Linked DNA regions of Homo sapiens: region 1 is linked to region 2. Evidence: fine-mapped expression QTL. A gene starts in region 2. The other region holds a variant in brackets. All regions are shown on one strand. Distances are between the middles of the regions.

Evidence for each region. PIP is the estimated chance that this variant, and not a neighbour inherited with it, causes the effect.
Region 1: its variant is fine-mapped to the expression of LINC01193 in testis (GTEx, PIP above 0.99).

Annotation. Positions count from the first base shown.
Region 1 is chr15:21,001,634-21,004,547 of GRCh38, reverse strand. It overlaps FAM30C (family with sequence similarity 30 member C), which reads right to left and starts at 1,271. Exons shown (of 4, transcript NR_145444.1): 1 at 789-1,271. The variant A/T (reference allele first, on the strand shown) is at 1,233.
Region 2 is chr15:20,939,362-20,942,275 of GRCh38, reverse strand. It overlaps LINC01193 (long intergenic non-protein coding RNA 1193), which reads right to left and starts at 1,838. Exons shown (of 5, transcript NR_040094.1): 1 at 1,510-1,838. It overlaps MIR5701-1 (microRNA 5701-1), which reads right to left and starts at 2,024; the gene lies at 1,943-2,024.

The DNA of each region.
Region 1 (2,914 bases), 62 kb before region 2:
TCTGGGTGACACAGCAAGACGCCATCTCAAATAAAATAAAATAAAATAATATAATATAATATAATATGTAAAAAATGATCAATAAATGAAATTACTATCAGTTGAAACTCATTAAATTTAAAGACGTTTTCTACTCAAGTAACTATAAGAACATGAATGTCAAGTTTCAGATGGGAAACTATTTTCAAATCACATAACCACCAATTTAATTAGAATAAGAACTCTCAAGACTCAACTGTGAAAAAGAAATAAGAAAGAAACAACCCATGGATAAAATAGGCAAAGGTTTGTGCAGACATTTCATCAAATGAGATGTGCAGATGACACATAAGCATATAAACAGGCTGTTAACAGGATTTTCCATTAAAGGAATTCAAATCAAGCCCACAATGAGACACCACTATACACTTTTTAGAATGGCTGAAATTAAGAAGAAATACAGGTAATACCAATGCTGATGAGCATACCAAGTTCCTAGTGTCTACGACATTGTTAATGGGAATGCAAAATGAAACAGCTACTCGGGAAAATAATTTTTAGTTTTTTCTGCAATCAAACATGCCCTTAACACATGACCTAAATATCCCACTCTTGAATTTTGCTTCAGAGAAATACAATCTTATTTTCACACAAAACCTCTATTCAAATATTCAAGATATTACATGTGTGTGTGTTAGAAATGAAAAATAACATAAATGTCTCAAAATTTGAGTAGGTGAAAAAACTAGGAAGCATCTATAAATTGAATCCATCAGCAATAAAAAATATCAAATGATCGATTCACAAACCATTACAGTTGAACTCCAGGCATTATGCTAAGTGAGAGAAACCAGTCTCAAAGATCAAAGGAACACATCTGTAAGCAGCACTGTCAACCCCAGGTGTCAGTGGTTTGGGCTGGGCTCTCTCTGTCTCTCTCCTGACCAGACCCAGATGTTGAGCTCTGCCACTTGCAGATGGAAAATTGTACTATTTTCAATCATGCACTGAGGTTTGAATTACTTCACAGACTGAACCAAACAAACATGGGCTCCATTGAAGAGTGTCTGGCATTTATTTCAACCACAAGAGAACTTTCCCCAGCTCTCCCTTGTCCTCGGTTCTCTCCTGCAAGCCAGCAGCCCTGCAGTGTAGCCTGCATCTCCCATGCATCCACCCGTCTCCTTCCAAGGGCTTTCCACCACACCATCCACTGTTTTTGAGAGCACTGGCAGGCTTTCAATTTGTCCACA[A/T]TCTGCTGTTACTGAAGTTAGGATTTTTAGGACTAATTAAGGATCATATTTTATGACTGAATTCCATTGCCCCCTCTCTCCTGGGACAGAGCTCCTAAACAAGGTTCTGCAGGTGTAGACAAAGTTGAGCTGTTTTATTCCTCAGCCTAGGAGCTGAGCTCTCAGTGGAGGGTCGGGCAGGAGCTTCCCACCTTCTCAGCACTTCGGTTATTGTGGGGTGGAACCTCTGCCATAGGACAGAGCTAGAAACCAGAGACCCAGTGTTCCCAGTGGCACTGGACCCGGGACAGAGCCTCCATCCATGAGTGGGGCTCCATGGAAGAAGTGAATCTCTGGCTCTCAGTAGCTCTTGTTCAGCACTGAACCTCAGCATCATGTGCTGTGTGCAGGGTCAGAGGGCCAACGTACTGGGTCCTGGGGAAGAGTTTCCTCTGGTGGGAGTTGGTAGAAGGTGACCTGTCTTCTTGGCTGCATCTGTCCGCAGTGGAGTTTACATCATGCTGAGCTGGGATGTGGAAGGAAGGAAGAGCATCTTAGATCAAGTATGATGACTGGCCTTACTGAGTTTTCTAGATTTTCTTGAATAAATATTTCTTCACTTGCTTTATGTTGTTAGAGCCTTTCCAAACCCTGTAATTTTTCAAAATAATTTTCACTGGTCTCATGAGGGCCTGGATTCACTGAAACCCTCATGCTGTCAAAGAGAAATAGAATTTTTTTTCACTTTTTAGAGAACACCCATGCGTTATAAAATAATGGGTTGACTTTTCATCCAACACTTTACAGATACCATCAACTTTCCTCTTGCTTGTAAGGTTTTAACCAGAAGAATGCTGTCATCATCTTTTCTGTTCTTTTGGAAGGAATGCCCCCTCTGCTCACCTCCACTTGCCTGCGTATATTTCTATTTGTCTTTCCTTTTCAGCAGTTTTAATAAGATTTACCTAAATGTGTGTGGGGGGGATCAGTGGGTGTAATTCTGCTGTTCTCTGTTCTCTGAGATGCATGGATTCACGGTTTACTCTGTCTCCATTTTGGGGAACACAATTAGAAAAAATGTCAGTATGAGCCCAGAAACAAGCCTCCCTGAAGAGGGAACAGGACCAGCTGGGGGCACTCAGGACCCACTGAGCACAAAAGCCAGCCTCAGGGCAGGTGCAGAGGGAGGCTAAGGTCTGGTTTCCTGTCAGCCCTGTGGCTTCCTCTCCATGAAACAGTTTCCTCTGGGGCACTTCTCTGGATTCCTTATCCTGTTCTTCCTGAAGAAGAAACATTTGTGGTGACAAGAGAAAAATTTTCTCACATGCACCAAAGGCAGAGTCACCTACAATCACTCCTGTTTCTCAATGTGAATAAATTATCAATGCTTCTGAATTCAATCAGCTAAATCTATAAAAGGTGTGGTGTTTAACTCAACACTGCAGCCCAGCTCAACAGAACTCCAAGGGTCAGTGAGCAGCAGGCAGGATAAAGTGCATGCTGGGCACTGGGGCAGAGGGAGTTAGCATCCAGTGCAAAAGAAGAAAGGCCCCGTGGTGGTCACTGTCAGGACTCCAAACCCATAGTTCCAATTGTAGGTGACCCCATGCAAAAGAAGAGAGAGCCCACCAATTGTTAGTGTGGATGTCAGGTCTGATAGTGCCACACTCACACCTCAGGTGGTTATGAAAAGATTTACCAAC
Region 2 (2,914 bases):
CCGTGGTGTCCCCGCCACTCCGTGTCCAGCGTGCCTAGGGGTGCCAGGTGGTCTCCGCAACACAGAGCGAAAAGGGCATGGCCCCGGGAACCCCGGCGGGTAAGGGGTCCTTGCCGTGCTCAGGATTACTGCGGAAACGCCGTGCGCTCGCTGCGCTCTAGCAGGAGCAGGAGGAGATCGCCTTTTAGAGTCTGAAATCCAGAAAGAGGAAGAAGGCTCCTTCCTTGGAGACCCTGTTGCTGCAAGCTCTGCCGCCACCAGCAAGGCAGCCCCTGATGGCGCCCCTAATCCGCTGCCTGATGTTGGCTCTGGGATAGCGCCCCCAACACCGCCCCTCGCCGCTGCAATGTAAAACCCAATAGCGCCCCCAACCCATCCCTGCCTCGGACGTCGCAGCACCAGATAACTCCCCCATCCTACCGTCTGCCGTCGGCCATGCAGCCACCGATAGGACCTCCAACTAACCCCCGGCTGCGGGCAGTGATGCCCCGGAGAGCACGGCCACCTGCTCCATGCCGTCAATAGTGCAGCCATGGATCCTTAAGGTCCCCAACCCCCTCCCCACGACGAGCAGTGCAGCCCTACATAGCAGATAGCACCCCCAACTGTCCCCCACCCAGGGGGAATGATGCCCTGGATAGTGCACCCCACCCGCACCCCGCCATGGGCAGTGCAGCCTCCGACAGCACCCCTAACCTGTATACCGCTGCCAAAAATATGGTCCCCGATAGCACACCAACCCAGCCCCCACCACAAACAGTGCAGCAGCTGATAGAGCACCTAACTCGCCCCACCGCCACTGACCACAGTGCAGCCCCCGAACGGTGCCCACAACCCACCCCACCACCCCGCCTGCCACCGGCCGGGTATCACCCCCAAACCGCCCCTTGCTGTGAGGAGTGTATCCCCTAGTAGCGCACCCAAACCTGCCCTCTATCATGGGCAGTCTGGCCCGATAGCGCCCGAAACCGCACCCTCCAAGCACCTACCCGCACCCACCGCTGCCCCGCCCCACCACCAGCAGTGTAGCACCTGATACTGCCTCTAACCTCTCCCCTGCCATGGACATTGCAACCCCACATAGCGCCCCCAACAAGCCCCCACCATGGGCAGTGCAGCCCCAGATAGCATCCCCACCCCGCTGTCGGCAATGAAGCCCGACCAGTAAGCACCCCCACCAGTCCGCACCCTAACCAGCCCTCCCACCACCATGCCGCCGGCAGTGCAACCACAATAGCAGCCCCAACCCGGCCCCTGTCGCGGGCAGTGCAGCACCCAATAGCGCCCCCAACCAGCCCTACTGCTGCCATCAATACAGCCCAAGATAGTGACCCCAACCCGCCCCCCACCAACCCCCCCCCCACCCGCTGCTGAGGGCAGTGCAGCCCCGGATAGCACACCTAAAAGCAGTGACGCCCAAAATAACACTCTAGTACACCCAAAGTAGTGACACCTGGAATAATACCCCAACCAGCCCCCGCCGCGGGCAGCCCTGGATAGCTTACCTACCCCATTGCCTTTCTACACTCTGGCCAGCTGCAGTATCCGTCGCTGCCACCAACCACAGCGAGGCCAGCCAGGGAGGCGAGCCAGCGAGGCCAGCCGCAGTCCTGCAGGCTCTAGCCTCCAGCCTATGGTAGGTGCTTTCTCCTTCTTTCCTTCCTGTAGCCAAGCACGGAGCAGCTGTCACTGCCAGCTGCCTCTCTCCATTGCCACCACACACCATTCAAGGCTCCAGGGCTCCAGGTTCCAGGCTCCAGCCTGCGGCAGCACAATCTGCTGCCGCTTTCTCCAAACTCTGCGGCAGAAGTACAGGTTAACACACGATAGCCTGCAACAGCGCGACGCCCCCTTAGCATACCTTATATACTGGGGGGTTGTGCAGGCCTGGTTCTCGGACTTCACGTTCTGATTGGATGAGAGAAACATCTACGCCTACTCTGATTGGACGTTATTTTCATGTTCTGATTGGATCAGAACAAGTCTTAGGCTAACCAATCAGAACGTGACAATAAAGTCCAATCAGAGTAGGCCTAGTGTTTTCCTCTCATCCAATCAGAACATGTAGTTTATAATCTCGGTATATAAAGCATGTTAAGAGCTAGAGTTGCACTATTCCAGCCTCGTCGGCATCTGACTTCATAGCTGCTCCATTGCCAGCTTGGAGTAGGAGGTGCCAGCCACTGCATGCTGGAGGCTGCAGCCTACCGGGCTGTGGCTGGCCTCCCTGGCTCACCACCTCGCCGGCTTGCCTCGCCTTGCCTCGCTGGCTTGCCTTGCCCGCTGCGGTTGGTGGCAGCGATGGACACTGCAACCGGCCAGAGTGTAGAAAAGCGTCGGGGTAAGTGCGCTATCCAGGGCTGCACTGCCCTTGGCCTGGGACGGGTTGGGGGCCCTATCTCAGGCGTCACTGCCCACCTTGGGTGGCTGGTTAGGTGTGCTATCTGGGGCTGTGCTGCCTGCACCCGGGGGTGGTTTGGGGGCCCTAACCGGGGCTGCACTGCCCCCGGCGGGGAGCCTGTTGGGGAAACTATCCCAGACTGTATTGCTGGCAACAGTGAGGTGGGCTAAGTGTCCTATCCAGGGCTGCACTGCACGGCTGTTGCGGGGGGGTGGTGGTTTCAGGTTGAGGGTGCTATGGGGTGCTGCAATGCCCGTGGTTCGGGGAGGCGGGGCGGTTTGGGTGTGTTGGGTGCGCTATTGCGGGGGGGCTACACTGCTGGTTGCAAGGGGGCAGGGTGGGTTGGGGGCCATATCAGGGGCTGCACTGATTGCTTTAGCTAGGGTTTCCAGTACTATGTTAAATAACAGTGGTGACAGTGGGCATCCTTATCATGTTCCAGATCTTAGAGGAAAAGCTTTCCATTTTTCCCCATTCCATATGATTCTAGCTGTGGGGGTCTCTCATGTGGTT